Homo sapiens: one gene and its partners. The protein of the gene in region 1 purifies or fractionates together with the protein of each later gene. This does not show direct contact. Each region holds a gene or a part of one and is shown in the gene's direction. Other genes may lie near its edges. The genes, in order: OLFM3, LRP1B and RNF20.

Region 1 (3,544 bases):
CGAAAAACTAGACTATACATTTTTTTCAGAGCAAGGGATAGAATAAATGTAATTTGCTGAAGGTTGTATTTGCTGTAGTTTTCACTGATGGCATTATTTATCAGGTGTAATTTGCATTGACATATGATTGGTTCACTCAGTGATATGCACCAAATGGTCAGGAATTTAAAAAACAAAGAGAGAAAAAGCAAAAAAGCAAATTAATGTCAAGGTAGTAAATTCAGTTATTTCTTTTCCACATGGACAGACCATAGCAATATTTTTACAAAAGCCTGAAATACATTGCGGCAGGTCAGCAGTAAGATAGTGTGGCTTCCAGAGCCTGAGAATTATAATAAGTGTTGACTCTCACTGTCTTTCTTTTGGGGTTATCAGAAAAGTACAGAATTTAGTCACTCCATTTATTTTTTTCCTTCTTCTCAGGTCTGGTACATGGACAGTTATACTAACAATAAAATTGTTCGTGAATACAAATCAATTGCAGACTTTGTCAGTGGGGCTGAATCAAGGACATACAACCTTCCTTTCAAGTGGGCAGGAACTAACCATGTTGTCTACAATGGCTCACTCTATTTTAACAAGTATCAGAGTAATATCATCATCAAATACAGCTTTGATATGGGGAGAGTGCTTGCCCAACGAAGCCTGGAGTATGCTGGTTTTCATAATGTTTACCCCTACACATGGGGTGGATTCTCTGACATCGACCTAATGGCTGATGAAATCGGGCTGTGGGCTGTGTATGCAACTAACCAGAATGCAGGCAATATTGTCATCAGCCAACTTAACCAAGATACCTTGGAGGTGATGAAGAGCTGGAGCACTGGCTACCCCAAGAGAAGTGCAGGGGAATCTTTCATGATCTGTGGGACACTGTATGTCACCAACTCCCACTTAACTGGAGCCAAGGTGTATTATTCCTATTCCACCAAAACCTCCACATATGAGTACACAGACATTCCCTTCCATAACCAATACTTTCACATATCCATGCTTGACTACAATGCAAGAGATCGAGCTCTCTATGCCTGGAACAATGGCCACCAGGTGCTGTTCAATGTCACCCTTTTCCATATCATCAAGACAGAGGATGACACATAGGCAAATGTGACATGTTTTCATTGATTTAAACAGTGTGATTTGTGATAAACTCTATAAGACCCCTTCCGTTTTTTTCTTCACTATTATTTTTCATCATTTCTCCAAAGCAAAGCATTTTTATTGTAAAGTTGGTGTTTCAAAAACATAGCTGAGCTTGTCTAACTTACCATGTTGGAAACACATCTTAACTTCTAAATTTACAAGGCCTATCATGTCCTTGTCATGAAAAGCACTAAAAAAAAAAAGAGTTTAAGTGGCTAAAGTCATAGTTTTGCAAGAGATTAATGATCTGCCTTATATTAGAGTCAGAGACTAATGGTGGCTTAAATGCACGAATGTCTTTTTTTTTAAAACTGTCATTTTTTACTGTCTTTTGCTCCATATCAGGAAATATTTTGGTAGGAATTAGGAGAACAAAAAGCACTTTTATCCCATTTATTTCTTTAAAAAATGTAAGGATTTCATTTATATTGAAAAATAATATTAATCATTTTGCTGTTAACACAATTCTCTGATGCGGTGCTGTACAGTCATTTTTAAATCTCTTGCTAACATTTTATTGGCAGTATGTATTTCTACCATTGTAACCACCATTGTGCTATTGTATCTCTTCACTTCTGTGAAAGTAATATTTTTTATAAAATACACTGAAATTTAACCTCAGTAATTGAGTCCATTTTCAAGTGTGGTCAAGAATAATCTTCTTGGCTTACCCCTTTACATAAGCATTATAAACTAAAATGAAAACCAAACCAGACACCTGACATAGAGTCTTTATTTTACCCCAAGTTTTTTGGGCCACTGACATTGAATGCAACAACTGATTTCATACAACTGAGTTACTCTGTTCACTCCACTGAATGCAACCCATATAGTTTCTTGCACAAGGTGCATCTGGATTCCAAATATTGGATTTGAGTTGACTCTACTCATTTATTATACACTAAAGAAATTTTGTTCTTCATAGTTAAATGTACTAGCATTTAATTTATATTTTACATACAACTTGCAATAATGAAATTCCTTATGTCAGGACCCTGAAAATAAGCACATTTGAAAACTCTTAGAAAAAAAAAATTCTGTAATGTCCTCTAGATTTAGATTATGAGCCCTGAGGAGTTATTGGCAAGATTTGTGCAAAATAAAATATGGGGAGACTTGGGAGTTGTCTTTGTGGTTTCAAAAGTGTAAATAACCAATTCAGAAAACAAAATGGAAAAACGACCCCTTGTTACCTTGATTCACTGTATGTGGAAAAATAATGTAACCAAAAGGGAAGAGCTTTAATAATACTTATGTTAATAACTCTATGAAACATATAAGCTAACTATATATCAAACATTTCATTGAGTTTGGATGTATTTTCCACATATTAAAAAAATAGTTCCCTAAGGCAGCTTTATGGAAACTAATATAGGTTGGTTTTACAATTTAAAAAGTATATTCTATAATAAATAATAAAACAAATTGTTTTAAATGTTTAGTTTCACACATACATAGTACCATGATTTTCTTTGAAAGATAAGGATGTAATGATTTAGATAAAGCATCATGTAAAGAAATCCTAACATTTAAGTGTAATTCATTTCAAATGTCACAAGTAAAGCATCATCCTCAAATATCTCACTGTCAAAATTGTAGAATTAAATAACCCAATCTTGAAACTGTCAAGGTTTAACAATGATTTCTTTTTTTGCCTACAAAAAGTTAACATGATTGAATGACTACTCTGGGTCCTTTTGCAATATTTTATTCTTTTTTTAACGAGTTTACATAAGCTCTGGTTTGCTACTGGGAGTTGGAAAATTTAAGAGATTCACTTGTCATTGTACACACACCACAAAAACAACCAGTCTGTGTTCCATATATTGAGTTTGTATGAGGAAAGAAAGTCACTTTAATTTTAAAAATGAATGAAATTTTAAGTAGATAGCCTCTAATAGATATCTGGATCATCATTACTTGTTTAAAATGATGTTATATGGTACCACATACATTCACAATTTGGCTGATCACAGCTTATTCATGAGGTATGAAACTTGCAAACCACTTTATTGTTTTCTATGTAAGATTTTATCATGATTTCCAATTTATAGTGTATGTGCTGCTAGAGCAAGCACAGATATTATTATTGTCACTAGAAGTGGGGAAACATGAATTTTAAAATGTGATAATCATTAAACATTTACAGTTTAAAAGCATTTTTTCTTAATAAATTATTATCAGTTTTTTGCCTGAAATAAATAAGAACTACTCTATTCACTGTTTTTTTAATCTCCAACAAAGAAAATAAATCTTACGAGGGAAATAATGAGTATTTTTAAATCACGCACATAATCAAAGCATTGGAGAAATCCAAGCTCAGAAAGTCTTAATCCTAACTGAACTACGTAACTGATATTTTCTGAATTGGCCAGAACATTAACAAGCTTTCATATCACTC
Region 2 (7,677 bases), on another chromosome or scaffold:
TCAAATTCGAGCTCTAGGGAAACAGTTTAGCAATCAAAGAAGAGAATTTTAAATCCAGAGAAAATGATTAATGCCAACTAGTCTTGCTTTTCACAACTGTTCACATATGTAGAGTATAAGGATAACATTTAATACTGTTTCTCTTAAAAAATAGACTTATTTATTATTTTCTTTCACTCCATTACCCTTCTCACACAAAAATCAGAGCTTTGTCACTAATGTTAGCTGTCTCAAATTTATTCATGGGCATTTATAATAATTTGAATGTGTATTTTTTCAGGTTGAGTATAACTGCCTGTGACAGGAAAAAAAAAAGTTTTTCCTGAAAAGTATACCTGTATCTAGACTAATTCTGATGTCAATCTGTACAGTTGTCAGAAGACAAATACAATTAACTTTCAGGGTCCATTAAGGGTTTGCTAGGCCTTTGGGCGCTCCAGTGCTACCAAATGTGATCTTTTTACCTATTTATCCAAATGTCAATAATCAGTTGGAAATTAACTCATGATATGTGCTCATTGCACTGTCTTCCTGCTCAAAACTGTTAGAGTCTAGTTAAGACAATAAAGACATTTGTATTATGACAGTTTCTGATAAAATTTCTATAATTCTGAAAGCCACTTTTAAATGTCCCTTTTAAAATTATATGTTTTTAAATTTATAAGTGCAAGCTTATTTAAATAAAGAACATTTTTTAGTTTAACAAATACTATTTTATTATTCAGATAAAATTCAGTTACACAATATAGCATTTGATTTGGACAAGTTTAATATTTTCTAGATTTCAGAAAGTATTTTTAGTAGGGCTACATGTGCCCATCTGATACTCTAAAATCAGTTTTTCTTGGCTATATCATATAGTGAACACGTTTTTCACAACTGCAAAATTTGAACTCAAATAGGTTCAAACTCAATAGTAATTTTGTCAGTCAATGTTAATATCAGTAGGGTCTGAACCTACTGGTCAAAAACCAGGGACAAATATTTTCATTTCTTCCTATTGCTAAAGACCACATTTAGATGCCAAGAATCTATGTTCATTAATGATATCTCAGGTGCATCTATGTAAGTTATTACCTTAAATTACAAGTCTCTTTCTGCAGTTTTACGAGCTTGGAGAGGGTTCTTTCTCTACATTTGGTTTATAATCCCCAAAGTTTCTCAAGGTGCAAATTCCATTCATTTCTTTACTTTCAATTTCAGTTTAAGGAGCAAATAAATTATTATTTGCTTGACATAAAATGTTTACTTAATTTTGATAGGATTAAAACCTTTTACTTTTATTCAGTTGATAAATTATTTAACTCTAAAAGTGAGTCCTACACAGAAAGATTTGGCTTCACATATAATGATACCATATCTAATCACTACTGTTTTCCACAGGAAAAGAATTGTGTAAATTCTGGATTAAAAAATAGTTTTACTTAGAATAATTTTATGCATTTTTTTTTACATTTATCTCAGCCTCTTGCATGAAAGTATCACAAATTTAAAATGAATAGGGGTTACTTGGAAAAAAAGAGAGTGACTTCTTTCTCAGAGCTAAGACCTTTTTCATATTTTGTTTTCTGTGTGTGTCTGTGTTTTTTTTTTTTTTTTTTTTTTTTTTTTTTTTTTTTTTTGAGACAGTCTCACTCTGTTCCCCATGCTGGAGTGCAATGGTGTGATCTTGGCTCACTGCGGACTCTGTGTCCCGGGTTCCAGTGATTCTCCTGCCTCAGCCTCCCAGGTAGCTGGGACTACAGGCACATGCCACCATGCTAGGCTAATTTTTGTATTTTTAGTAGAGAAGGGGTTTCACCATGTTGGCCAGGCTTGTCTCAAACTCCTTACCTCAAGTGATACGCCTGCCTCAGCCTCCCAAAGTGTTAGTATTACAGGTGTGAAGCCACTGTGCCAGGACTGTTTTTTGGTTTTAAATATGGAGATTTTTTGTTACGCATCTTATAGCTAAGGAAAAATAACATTTGATATAATATCATTATATATTTCTGTGTTATCTTTCTATTTGGTGAGACAGTGTATTCTAGGGAAGACAATATAGGCCTGGATTAGTAAAGCCTGAGTGTGGTTCTTGGCTTGCCCTCTTATTGGCCATGTGGACTGTGGATCATTTACTTCCTAGTCATAATTACCATAGCTGTGAGAATTAGGGCTAAGTAGGTTGGTTGCTACAAAAGTAATTGTGCTTTTTGCCATTACTTTTAATAGCAATAAACACATTTATTTGTGTACCAACCTATAAATAGCTTATTTGATCTGTTCACTCAAAATAATATTTTTATTAGTGCATTTGCAAGTAGATTAACATTAATTAAAATCTTTAATATGCACATTTCTTTTCTTATGTGAACTTTGGAATATGTTAAAAATAGATGATAAGAATCAGATTAGACAGGTAAGCACATGTCTGCCCTGGTCTCACAGTGCCTCCTTCACAGTATAACATTACCTGCCATTTTAATACATGTTTTTCCTTAAAAAGTTAAGTGTAGCAATACATTTCATTTGCGAGTTAGTTATTTTATATTGAATAATATTTTTCATCCACTGACAGCGTACCTTAAAGTCTTAAAAATCTTGACGTTAATAAAGGTGTAGATTTTTAAATGCCTGCTTCAATTATATCTTACCAATAAAATATTAGTTGGATTTTATGCTACAAAGTTTTTCCTTTCTGATTTATAAAGCTTGTAAATATGAATGAAATTTTCTTCAGGATTAATATAATTGAGATTGTAGCCATACCTCATTTTTGTTTGTCTGTAAAACTCTACAATGTTTATTTTACACAGCATTTTCAAGAAAAATATCAACTATTAAAACAAATTAATATACATAAATAATACATATATTTTTATCTAGTTAAGTATCACTTTGTACTTAAATAACTCCAGTGAGTATAAACAAAATATAAGTCTTTAATTTTTCTGTATGCAGTCTCACTGATTCTTACGTGACTATTCACATATATTATTCAAATATCCTGACGAGGCTGCAGGAAAAAGGGAATGCTTAAACACTGTTGGTGAGGATGTAAATTAGTTCAGCCACTGTGGAAAGCAGTTTGGAGATTTTACAAGGAACTTAAAACAGAGCTACCATTCAAATAATCCCATTACTGGGCATATACCCAAAGGAAAATGCATCATTATACCAAAAAGACACATGCACTCATATGTCCATCACCCTGCTTTTCACAATTGCAAAAACGTAACATAAACCTAGGTGCCCGTCAATAGTAGACTGCAAAAAGAAAATGTACATCTATACTGTGGAATACTTTGAAGCAATGAAAACAGCCCTTTTGCAGCAACATGGCTGGAGCTGGAGGCCATAAACCTAAATGAATTGATGCAGGAACAGAAAAGCAAGCACTGAGTGTTCTCACTTATAAGTGGGAGCTAAGCATTGAGCACACATGAACATGAACATGGGAACAAGAGACACTGTGGACTACTTGGGGATTGGGGGAACTACCCATTAGGTACTATGTTGACTATTTAGGTGCCATATAACTTCTAAGAACTAGAAAAAGATACAATAATTTTTAAAAATTAGGAACTATACACCCAGCTGTTGAATCAATGCTTCCCATATTTTTTAAAACTTTATTCACTGCTGATGTCTGATAGTTGGATAAAAACTTCAGTAGATGTAACTTCAAATTAAGAATTAAGAAGGAATTATATTTATCTAAAAGCATGGATTTCTGTATAGTCCTATGAATATCGAATTTTTTGAATGAATGAGTGAAATACATGGATTATGTACATTCTGTTTTTCTACATTTTATTTTATGACATGTTGTTTTATTTTGGCATACTATATGTGTTCTTTCTGCATGACATTTTCTTTCACATAGTCCCCCATTACATTTTGTTTTATAAGATTACTAAAATAAGAATTTCTGCTTTTGCATAAAACCGTATTTTAAGATGACTTCACAAGATAACATAAAATTCAAACTAGATTAGTTACATTTAGCAGTCTAAGTAGAAAAAATAGAAAGTTATGATGCATTCATGTCTATATTCATAAATTAAATATGTATTTACCACAAAATTTCTAATTACCTGGTGCTAAAGGAGTAATAGTGAATGAAAATAGAGGAGTGATCACTGTCCTTGTTGAGCTTACAGTCTAGTGGGGGCAAAAAATATTTATAATAAATGATAATGTAAGGAAATACAAGTGGAAATTTGCCATTCTAATCTGTGTTGTGAAGCAGAGCACATGGTACAGGGAAGACACAGAAGGCTTCTGGAAAGAAATAGTTGAGATATGAAAAGTAGGAAGTAATTAGGCAAACAGATTGGAGAAGAGCATTTGAGACAGGAAATAGCAGGCACAAAAGGTATTTTGGTAGGATGTTGAGTGCATCCTATGATTTGTATGACTGGTTAACTATTTTTTTACGATAAAAATTATTTTATCGGAACCATAAGCACACTGTATATTAACTTCCGAAATGTATTATTTTTATTCTAGTGTGAATGCTACTGCTGTTATTAGTAATGTCTTTTTGCATAGCTCTGCATACTACAAATAAATGTACATAAACACTACAAATTAACAATTTAATTTCAGCCTCTTGTTCTGGACTGAATGGGGACAAATGCCCTGTATTGGAAAGGCTCGCTTGGATGGCTCAGAGAAGGTTGTCCTTGTAAGCATGGGAATAGCATGGCCGAATGGCATCTCCATCGACTATGAGGTCTGTTGGATTTCTTTTCAGTATTTAAAGTGCCTTAACTGACAACTTTAATTTACCTACTTTTAGTGTTCCTTTATTTTCTTAATAAAACAATCAAATATAGTCTGTAACGTTACTTCTTAATCGATATTTAGGAAAATAAATTGTACTGGTGTGATGCTCGCACAGACAAGATAGAGAGAATCGACCTTGAGACTGGAGGGAATCGCGAGATGGTGCTGTCAGGAAGCAATGTGGATATGTTTTCAGTTGCAGTCTTTGGGGCTTACATCTACTGGTCTGACAGGTAATTTATTTTTTCATAAGTATTTGAGTCTCAAAATGTTATTTCAGTGCCAGTTGCTTTACCCTTGTAGGATTTACCATTTCTTAGCAAGGTCACAAAAAGGAACTCACAAAGCCAGTAATTTCCACAGAAAAGGCAGGTACTCTTGCTATTCCAAGCTGAAGCATTTCAATGTCACAGACTAAAGTTGGTTTCTTTCCCTTCTGTTGGTCCATCTGTTATCTTCAGCTTAAGTAACTGGCTTGACTTTAATTAGTCGAAGATTGTTGATCATGTATGTTCAACTTTTTGGCAGAGCACATGCAAACGGGTCTGTCAGAAGGGGCCACAAGAATGATGCCACAGAAACGATAACCATGAGAACCGGCCTTGGAGTCAACCTGAAGGAGGTTAAAATATTTAACCGAGTAAGAGAGAAAGGTCAGCACTCTTGAAAGAATACATAATATGTATATTTTATGTGATTTCTCTCCAATTTTTAAAAACATTGTCAAACTTAGAAATTCTTCTATAAGTCTAAAACCTCAAAACATTATCTTTACATCTAATTTCCTGCAAGTATCATATAGTAGCCTAATACAATAAATATGTCATATTTCATACAAAAGCGTATTTGCCCAGGACAGCACAGGTACATGGACATGTTACATACCTGGCATGTCTTGATTATAGGTTTTGGCTAAGGAATATAGAAAAACTTGAAACATGTATTGATTGGATAAAAAATTAAAAGCATAAGTAGGATATTAATAAAAGGCAGTTGAAATTTTTATACATAATATGAATCATATTATATAATAAGTGGTTATGATCCCAAAGGTGATGCTGTTAATGTAAAATATTTCCAAAGTCATTACTTCCTTAAAATATTTATTCTAAACTTACAGGACAATGATTTGGGTATTTAAAATTTGTTTACCTCCATTAAAATAAATTGTAACTAACTTTTTTGTATCAAAGGAAGTTATAATAATGTTGGAGATAATAATAATGAATTCACAAAGGAGAATTAGACTGGTGAAGAAATTTTAAGTGCATTTTTTATCTTCACTTAAAATTGGAGTAAGAACTTATGCTCAGCATATTTAGGAGGTTAGGCACATTGTAGCTATAGATTTCTTTGATGCTTTCCATATCTCAAAGATAGAGTTTAAAGCAGTGCATTATTTCTGGTGAGATCAATTCATGTTTTAAATGAACAATATATGAAACACTATAAGTATCAAGTTTCAAAAAAGATTTATATACTTAACTGGTTCATTAAGGGAAAAATTTAATGCTTAACTTGGATGGTGAATGAAACAGACTATGATTTTCCAAATAAAGAAACCCAAGATTTAAACTGCTGTGATTTTTTAAAAAACAATACTTTTTTAATTTTTTATTGACCAGCTTAAAATTAAGAGCAAAAAGAGAATATTCAACATCAAAGTTTTAATATTTCTTTATGGAGAATTTTGTTTCAAAAACAAAAGAAAAACATAAACATGTGCATGTGTGTATCATTTTTCTTCATTAGGGACCAATGTTTGTGCCAGGGACAATGGTGGCTGTAAGCAACTCTGTCTTTATCGAGGAAATTCCCGGAGAACTTGTGCTTGTGCCCATGGATATTTGGCAGAAGATGGAGTTACTTGCCTGAGGCATGAAGGCTATTTACTGTATTCAGGAAGAACAATATTAAAAAGTATACATCTTTCTGATGAAACCAATTTAAATTCCCCAATAAGGCCATATGAGAATCCACGTTATTTCAAGAATGTCATAGCCTTGGCTTTTGACTATAATCAAAGAAGAAAAGGTACCAACCGAATCTTTTACAGTGATGCACACTTTGGAAATATACAGCTTATTAAAGACAACTGGGAAGACAGACAAGTAATTGTTGAAAGTAAGTACAGTAATTCAATTTTAAATAGGTGGAAATGAGTATCATTTAGATTACTAGAGAAATAATAGTGGTAATTGCATGTAGCAATTACATTTTCCTAGATTTTATATTCAGGAATGAATGTGACTATATCATCTAACCCTCACCCCCCACCCCCCCGCCAAATGTCAAAGAAGCAATTAATTGCTAGCATGTACAGCAAATTATGATTATTACCTTCTAATCATGGAAGGTTTAATATGTTTTATCATAATGTTTCTTATAAATAACTGCACTAAAATTCATGAAAAATCATTTTTCAGTGTAAAACTATTCTAATTGATTTTTTTTTTCCAGTGGGCAAATTGTATATTTAAGAATATCTGTTCAGTAATAGTTAATCATAGTTTCTCAAGCAAACATCAGAGATTTTTTTTCTGTATATATGTGTATATATATAAAATATATATATAATATATATTATATATGATATATCATGTATATGTAGCAGATGAGAAAATGTTATGGAAATGATCTAATATTTTTAATGTTTTTATGGGACATAATTATTCAAGCATAGTGTTCAGTGAGGATTATCCACATAATTTAGGGAAACCTTTTTCCTGTCATTCAAGTTTAACAAAAACCATCTTCTTATTCTTCACACAACTTCTCTCTTCTTGATGTCTTTGTGTGATTTCCATATATTTCCCATTCTTCCAGTTTCACTATGTGGAAATCAATTTTTTCTTTGCTTTCTAAATTGCAAAATAATATATAAATTTGTTGTAGAGTGTTCAAATA
Region 3 (8,121 bases), on another chromosome or scaffold:
TAGCTGGAATTACAGGCGACCACCACCATGCCCAGCTAATTTTGTATTTTTAGTAGGGACAGGGTTTCACCATGTTGGCCAGGCTGGTCTTGAACTCCTGACATCAGGTGATCCGCCCGCCTTGGCCTCCCAAAGTGCTGGGATTACAGGCATAAGCCACCGCGCCCGGCCTTCTCTCAGCTTTTTAAGAGAGCATTAAACTAAATGGGGCTCCTCTGACAATTTGTGACTACCAATTAGCTCTCACGTTTCCATAGACTGTTAGGACACCTTGTCCTCACTCTTTAAAAAAGGCAGACCTGGCTCTAGCTCCCCTGAGTAAGCCACCTCCCTGGTCCCCAGAAATTACAAAGTAAGAGGGCTGAGTATGATGTAGTATAGTGGGCCAGGTGATCTGGGGAGAAGGAGGCAGGGGTATGGAAATGAAGGAGAAAGGTGTGGCGAGGGTGAATGGTAGGAGAAGGGAAAGGTGAGGACAAGAGGAGGGGGCTCGTTTTTGTAGGACACTCCCAGGTGGACCTGGACATCATTACCTAGAGCAGTGTTCCTTAAATGTGCCCAGATAGGAAGCATAATTACAAAAGTAAGAACTTGCATTTTCAGAGAGCTTTCCCCCGGAAATTCTGATTCAGCAAGTCTAGAGCAAGGGCTATGGTATCTAAATGTTTCTGTTTAACGAGTGATACCATGCTAAGTAAAATACAACTTGTTTAAAATAAGGGAGTTCCTGAATTATGTCTGGCATACAATCCAATCCAGATTTCATGGAATATTGGAATGCCTGGAGATATAACAATCTTAGAACAAAACATTTGTAAAGCAGTGTAGAAAAAAACAATAAACAAAAATCCAAAATATCTTAATTTTGTCCATTTTGAGAGCATTAAGCCTACCCTCAGTAGTTGTCCAAGTTTCTAAGAGTTAGGGTGAAGACAGGACATGACTGATGCGCAGTACTGTGCAACCAAAGCTTTAGAAAGGGAACTGGGTAAAGAGGCGTGTCGCCTTATGCCACCTTGTGGCAGAATTGGGTAGTTAATGAAGACCGGCTGGAGGTCGAATGACTTGGGTCCTTCAACAAATACTCATTAAGTCATCATTTGAAAAAAAAAATCACTTAAAATCTGAGTCTGTTTTCTCCTTTTAAAAAAGATTACTATTTGCTTAAATTATGTTTTTGATACAAGCAATGAGACTTTAAAAGTGAAATAAAATATTAAGTATTCTTTTTATCATTGCTAATGCTGTTTTCCCATTTATAAGTGAGGGAAAAACTTATTTTTCCAGGGATATTCCTTTTTCTCTTGATTAAGATGGTGAACAGAAGGTGGCTGGTCAGAAATGAATGGGGAATGCATTCAATGAGAGAGATCTCTGCCATCCTCCTCTTCATCTATTCTATTTTCCCAATTCGCTAGAGTGAGACAGGCTACTTTGAAGATGTCAGATGGCTGACTGAGGTGCTCAGAAAAGACAGATCTCACCAGTAGCTGCAGAATATGGTTACCTACTATGATGGTTAATTTTATGTGTCAATTTCGCTGGGCCACTGTGCCCAAATAGTTGGTGAAACATTATTCTGGATGATTCTGTGAAGGTGTTTTTGTTTGTTTGTTTGTTTGTTTGTTTTTTTGGATGAGATTAATATTTAAATTGGTAGACTAAAGCAGATTACCCTCCAAAATGTAGGTAGGCCTCATCCAATCAGTTGAGAGCCTTAATAGAACAAAGACTAACCTCCCCTGAGCAAGAATGAATTCTGCCAGCAGACTGCCTTTAGACTTAAACTGCAAATCTTTCCTGGGGCTCCAGGTTGCAAACCTGCCTTGTAGATTTTGGTTTATCCAGCCACCACAATCCTGTGAACCAATTCCTTATAATGTCCCTCTCTCTCTTTCTCAAATCTCTTTCTACACACACACACACACACACACACACACACACACACACACACACAGAGTTGATTTTATTTTCTGGAGAGCTGTGACACCTGTGAAGGTGTTAGATAACTGGAACTTTTGAGAAAGACATATATCCCAGTTGCTAGAGAATATGGTTACCTACATGGTGAGAATTGAAAGGTACTAGAAAAGTCTGCTCTCTTTGTAGAATCTTCTCTAACACTCAAGTGTGGGTTGAAGTTAGGGGTGACCTAACTCAGTTGATTGGCTCCATTTCCCTGAGATTCTCTTGGTTCTGCTCACCCCTATGTGGTCGCTCCATTCTCAAGAATGATCTCAGGAAGCCTCCAACAGTTTCAGCCTCACACAGAAAATCTGGAAGATAAAAATCTGCTTCAATTCTAGTATTCAAAGAAATTCACCCTGATTAAAGTGTCAATTGCTGACTAGGACTTTGGCTTGGGAAATGGAACTTAGTATTTAAGACAATCCTTGGAGATTGGGGTGAAATCAGTTTTCCCTAAGACTTAATGGAATCAAAGTGCTATATGGATACATGAAAAAAATCCTGGTTCTGCTAAGGTGAGGGAAGGGGAATAGCTGTTGGGTAGATCACCAATAATGTCCACCAGACACTTACGTAGTACCAGCAATTGATTTATCACAATGTAACACACAAGTGATGATACTCAAATTAAACTATACTAGTGCTAAGGAACCAGTAAAGATTAGTGGGGATTATGGTAAACAAGAATAACATGATCTATTAATAAAAGAGAGCCACGCCAAGCGTGGTGGCTCATTGCCAGTAGCTGTGGCTCAGGCCTGTAATCTCAGCACTTTGGGAGGCTGAGGTGGATGGATCGTCCGAGGTCAGGAGTTTGAGACCGGCCTAGCCAACATGGCGAAACCCCATCTCTACTAAAAATACAAAAATTAGCCAGGTGTGGTGGCGTGTGCCTGTGATCCCACCCACTTGGGAGGCTGAGGCATGGGAATTGCTTGAACCTGTGAGGTGGAGTTTGCAGTGAGCCGAGATTGTGCCACTGCACTCCAGCCTGGGTGACAGAGTAAGACTCTGTCTCGAAAAAAAGAAAAAAAAAAAAAAAGAAGAAGCCACTACTTTGCTCTAAGCAATGTGACCATGCAAAAATATAACCCTTCTGTTGCAAGATCATCAACATTTTTTAGAGAAACTGATAATTTGGATTTTTATGTAAAATAGCCATATTTTAAATGTTGGCAACTAAGTTCATTTTTGTTCTTGTTTTTAACCACGCAGGACAGCCAATACTGTCTAAAATAAACAAAGCATAACTGTTGGCTAAATGCAGTCTGTGAACCTCTAGTTTTCTGGGCTAGAAAAACCATTACTTGCCATTCAGTAGTTCTATGAATGAAAGGCTTGCTAAGAGTAGAGGAACCAAAGAAGATGAGAGAATGAGTGTCATTGTCTCATACAATGCTTTTCGGCAGGTGTGTCCCCACTCACATGTTCTCAGGCTCCCACTTCACGGAATGAAATGTGAAGTCCACTTGGGGCCAGTTAATTCTTTCCAAGATAGTCAAGGTGTTCCACTGCCAGGCACCAGGAACACTTGTTTCCCTGGTGTTGACCATCTTACTTCATTTACAGGTAAGCCCTAGCAGGTACAGGGACAAAAGTCTTCACACTAACAGAAATCCAGTGTAGATTAGCTTCTTTTTTTCCCAAGATGCCTAAATTCTATTTTTTAAAAAAGATATAGCGATCATTCTTCCATTTCTAGACCCTTAGCTGACGTCATTAGGTAGTTTATCATAGTTCTGCGAGACATACAGCTTTTCATTAATAGGTTAGATTAATTACCGTCCTATCATTAAAACGCATTTAGTTTAACTGAATGGAAAATAGCAGTTTGTCATAAACTTAAAAAAAAAAATCAATGCTTAATTAGCTTAAAATAGACTAGTACTGAGATCAGAGACTGATTGGCGTTTATCTTTTCCCTGGACAATTTCTTGTTCCCAAAAAAGCACAAGGGCAGTAGTTGTCACTCCTGCTTACGCATTAGAATCTAGTGGATGGAAATGCGGGGTTTGGGGGGAGGAGATGAGGGGAACGCTTTTTTAAAAAAGCTTTTGTCCAGGCCAAGTGATTCTAATGTGTAGACAGGGCAGAATACCGCTCCCTGTGCGGGGGAAAAAATCCCCAACATCTGAAATTCCTCAAATCCCTCAGATTCTCTCCAGAACTCTTCATTTCAGCACGTAGGGGTACCAACGAACAATTTTCTGAGGTGTCTGAGGCTAGTCATGTCCCCGGAGATTGACGGGACCGTCAGCCAATCGGCCGTCTGAACGAGTGATGGCAACCCCAATGACAAGCAACAGAATGAGGAACTTTATCCCCGCAGAAAGACCAGATCGCAGTAGCAAAGGTCAACAAGTCAACAAAAGCCAAGGGCTCTCCGTCAGGCATCAGCGAGGCCCGAGTACTCTTAGAGGTCGTAGCCAGGAGAGGGTCCCGCGCTTGCCCAGCGTTGCTAGGGAGGCGGCGCTTGCTCAAGCTTCTCGTGCCCTCTCCGTACGTCACTTCCGCCCGGCGGGGTCTCATAGTCCTATGGGCTGGGTTGAAGCCACTTCCTTTTTTCTTTCCCTTTTTCCTCTCCGTGGCCCCGCCTCCCGGAAGTTCTGCCTTGTCTCCGCCGCGGGTCAGGGGTGAGAGCTGGAATCTCTGCACGGGCCTTGGTGAGTAACTGCTGCGAGTTCTGTTCCCGCGCGGCGCCAGTTCAAAGAACTTAGGTTAGATCACGCTTAGGGCCCAACAGGACTGTGCCAGGCCTCAGGAGTCTCCACCCTCTCCAGTTTTGGGGCCGTCAGTCTCCTGGGCCTGCAATTATCCACGCTGAGGCTGAGGTCTTTGGCTTTTAGCGAGTTGGATTGCAGCCTTGTTCTGCTTCTGTGTCTTCTCTCTCCAGGCGAGGTCCTACTGAGGTTGTTGCCAGCGATAGTCCTCTCCTGGAGCTTGAATTGGAAGCAGAGTAGTCTTGTTAGTCTCGGTGATGGCTGCGTTGTTTCCTGAAGTAGCCAAAGTGCTTTAGCATCCATTCCGCCTCCTTTGAGCACCCTGGGAGGTAGGCAGGGCAGACGAAAAATATATTCGTTAATATTGTGCAGTTGAGGAAACTGAAGCTCTTGGCGAATTCACTGTTTCAAAGCAACACGGCCTCTAACAGGCAGAACTGAAATTCGCACCCAGGTCTAACTAACGTAGGGTTGCATAAAACAGTGGAGAGAGCGTTTGGAAATAGGGAAAACACTGCAAACGTTAAAGAAGAGCTGGGGTTTCTGAGTGCTTACTTTGTGTTCGGCTTTGTGCCAAATTCTTTCTATAATTATATCATCCATTTTATTTTATAATAAGCATAGGAAGTATATACTGTGGTTATTTATTCCTGGGTTAGGAAACTGAGGCTTAGAGATGATAACTGACTTGTCTAGTACTAATGACTTTAGTAGGCATTTCACAGATCTCTTTCAGCTCTGTGATTCTTTCAACACTGTAGTATTAACTTCTGGCATAATCAAACTGCCCTTTTCTGATTTTGGCATTACAGGAAGAGAGATTCCAGAACTTTATTTTTGGTCTCTTCACCCTTTGCCCATTGTCTCATTTCTTATCACCATTCTTATCACCATCCTATTTAGAAATTTATAGTCATGTAAATTTAGCCTTGACTTTCTTTTTTTTTTTTTTTTGAGACGGAGTCCCGCTCTGTTGCCCAGGCTGGAGTGCTGTGGTGCGATCTCGGCTCACTGCAAGCTCCGCCTCCCGGGTTCAAGTGATTCTCCTGCCTTAGCCTCCCGAGTAGCTGGGACTACCGGCGCCCGCCACCACGCCTGGCTAATTTTTTGTATTTTTAGTAGAGACGGGGTTTCACCGTGTTAGGCAGGATGGTCTCGATCTTCTGACCTCTTGATCCGCCCGCCTCGGCCTCCCAAAGTGCTGGGATTACAGACATGAGCCACCGCGCCCGGCCCGCCTTGACTTTTACTCTACAATTTAATTTTTTTTTTTTTTCCTCAAAGAGAAATATGGAGATGGTTGTGGAATTAATGGATCCAGGTTAAAGGGTTGGCCAGAAAAGTTGCTAGTTTTTACTCTATTGTTTTACTCTATTGTTGCTTTGCTTACATATATTATGTCAGTTTCTGCCTTTTTTTCTATCAGGAAAACGACTGTCTTCTTCTGCCAAAATGTCAGGAATTGGAAATAAAAGAGCAGCTGGAGAACCTGGCACCTCCATGCCTCCTGAGAAGAAGGCAGCTGTTGAAGATTCAGGGACCACAGTGGAAACAATTAAGCTAGGAGGTGTCTCTTCAACGGTATGAGGAAACAGTGCCATGAAAGTGTGCTTGTCTTCTGTCAGTTGCAACTTGAAACTAAAAATTCATGGAAGCTTTCTGGAGTATGGGGAAGCTATTTGAAAAGAAGAGGGAAATAAAACAGGCTGAAAGTAGGTAAAATGATGTGGTAGTCAGTTCTAGAGGAGAGGTAGATTGATAGTTGTTCTTTGTTTTCAAGGTGTACTTATATTCTTTCGAGAATCTGGGAAGGTGGTGCCTGATACAACATTAACTATAGGTATTTAGCAGTGGGAAGATACACATTTATTTTTCATTCACTGAAAAAGTCAGTACCAGATTCTAAGAGACAGTTTAGCAATCATTGAGAGTATGGTGAAGAGTGAGAGTCTGAGACCAGATTGCCTGGAGTTGACTCTGAGCTGTACCACTTCCTAGCTGGCTGACCTTGTGTTATCCTTCCTTTGCCTGTTTTCTTGTCTGTAAAATGTAATTAGAGTACCTGCTACATTAGATTTTTATGCATATAAAATAAGAGTCCCTGTTAAGGGCTAACACTTTGCATTTAATATAGTAAATAGTCAATAAATGGGAGGCATTCATAGCTAATATTGGGCTAGATAATATAATGGTGCATAACATAGATATTATCCTTGCTCTTATGGAGCTGACAAAATGAGTATTATATACCAAAATCTCATAGTAATGTTATATATCTGTTAGACATCAGAAGTTTACAGGTTTTGATCTACGTCAAGATTTTGCTTTTTTGAAAATCAGACATGGGGATGTGATATTAAAATGTTTTACATTTTGTAAAATGCTTTACATTTGTATGGCTTGCAAAACCACATCTATTGCTTATTTGATTTTGAGGCTGAGGTTTATTTTAGAGAGGCTGATTTTTTTTTTTGAGTCAGAATAATAGGAACATTCATAGTGAGTTGTTGATGAAGTGTCATTTCTGAGGCTGCCTGAGGTTCTGGTACTTAATATTGCTGGCAGGAAGTGATTTTTGTTTTAGCACTGCCTTGCATCATGCATTCCAAAGGCATTTATTCACTCAATATATAAATATTTGTTGAGTATTTGTTATTTGCCAGACACTATCCTTTACACTGAAGACAGCCCCTAGACTTTAGTTTGTAGGGTAGCACTGACAAGGGAATAGACTGTTTAGAGTGGGGTATGTGCTGTTGACAGGGATAAGCACATACTTATGGGAAGCACATAGCACACACCCCAGTGTGGACTTTATCCAGAGGCAATGAGGAGTTAGTGGATAGTCTTAAGTAGGAGACTAACATGCTCTGACTTGTGTTTGGAGACTATAGAAAAGCAAGGATTATAAACAAGAGTCCAGCTAGCAGACTTTTTTCTTTTCTTCTTCTTACTCTCTTTCGCTATAACTGCATCTCTCCAAAGGTGGGGATCTGAGGCATGTATCCACTGATCCCCGCTCCAATTGGTTGAAGGTTGCCATTGAAAGCAGTCCCTCCTGTGCATTTTGAGATTGCTGTTAGGAGCCAGCTGTGATTGCGGGACAGAAAAACTGAGTCTCCAAAGTGTGCTTGAAGTGGGAACAATGGCAGTGTAAATGGAGCTGTCCACCACAGCTGTGCTGAAATCTGGCAGGCTGACAGGACTTAGCACAGAGTTTTTGCTATAGGAGGCCTTTGCAGTAATCTTAATGAGAAATCATGGTGGCTTGGACCACTGTGGAGGTAGCATTGATAAGATCTGCTGATGGATTGGATAACTCACATGAAAGATAGGAGGGAGGATCATCCCAGGATTTTGAAAGTAATGGAATTTTTACTTACTGAGCTAGAGAAGTGTATGAGAGGAGCAGATTTTTGGGAGTCATGGAGGA

The links.
Region 2: the proteins of OLFM3 (region 1) and LRP1B purify together in Homo sapiens (affinity purification with mass spectrometry; 2 studies listed by BioGRID and IntAct, with this or other methods). This does not show direct contact.
Region 3: the proteins of OLFM3 (region 1) and RNF20 purify together in Homo sapiens (affinity purification with mass spectrometry; 2 studies listed by BioGRID and IntAct, with this or other methods). This does not show direct contact.

Annotation. Positions count from the first base shown.
Region 1 is NC_000001.11:101,801,795-101,805,338, reverse strand, and holds the end of OLFM3 (noelin-3 isoform 2 precursor), read left to right. Parts: intron 1-423; coding exon 424-1,101; 3' UTR 1,102-2,779; downstream 2,780-3,544.
Region 2 is NC_000002.12:140,699,467-140,707,143, reverse strand, and holds part of LRP1B (low-density lipoprotein receptor-related protein 1B precursor), read left to right. Parts: intron 1-4,590; coding exon 4,591-4,717; intron 4,718-4,851; coding exon 4,852-5,003; intron 5,004-5,298; coding exon 5,299-5,423; intron 5,424-6,522; coding exon 6,523-6,894; intron 6,895-7,677. UniProt on the Homo sapiens protein: Potential cell surface proteins that bind and internalize ligands in the process of receptor-mediated endocytosis.
Region 3 is NC_000009.12:101,529,284-101,537,404, forward strand, and holds the start of RNF20 (E3 ubiquitin-protein ligase BRE1A), read left to right. Parts: upstream 1-4,569; 5' UTR 4,570-4,631; exon of another isoform or gene 4,632-5,017; intron 5,018-6,114; 5' UTR 6,115-6,140; coding exon 6,141-6,269; intron 6,270-8,121. UniProt on the Homo sapiens protein: Component of the RNF20/40 E3 ubiquitin-protein ligase complex that mediates monoubiquitination of 'Lys-120' of histone H2B (H2BK120ub1).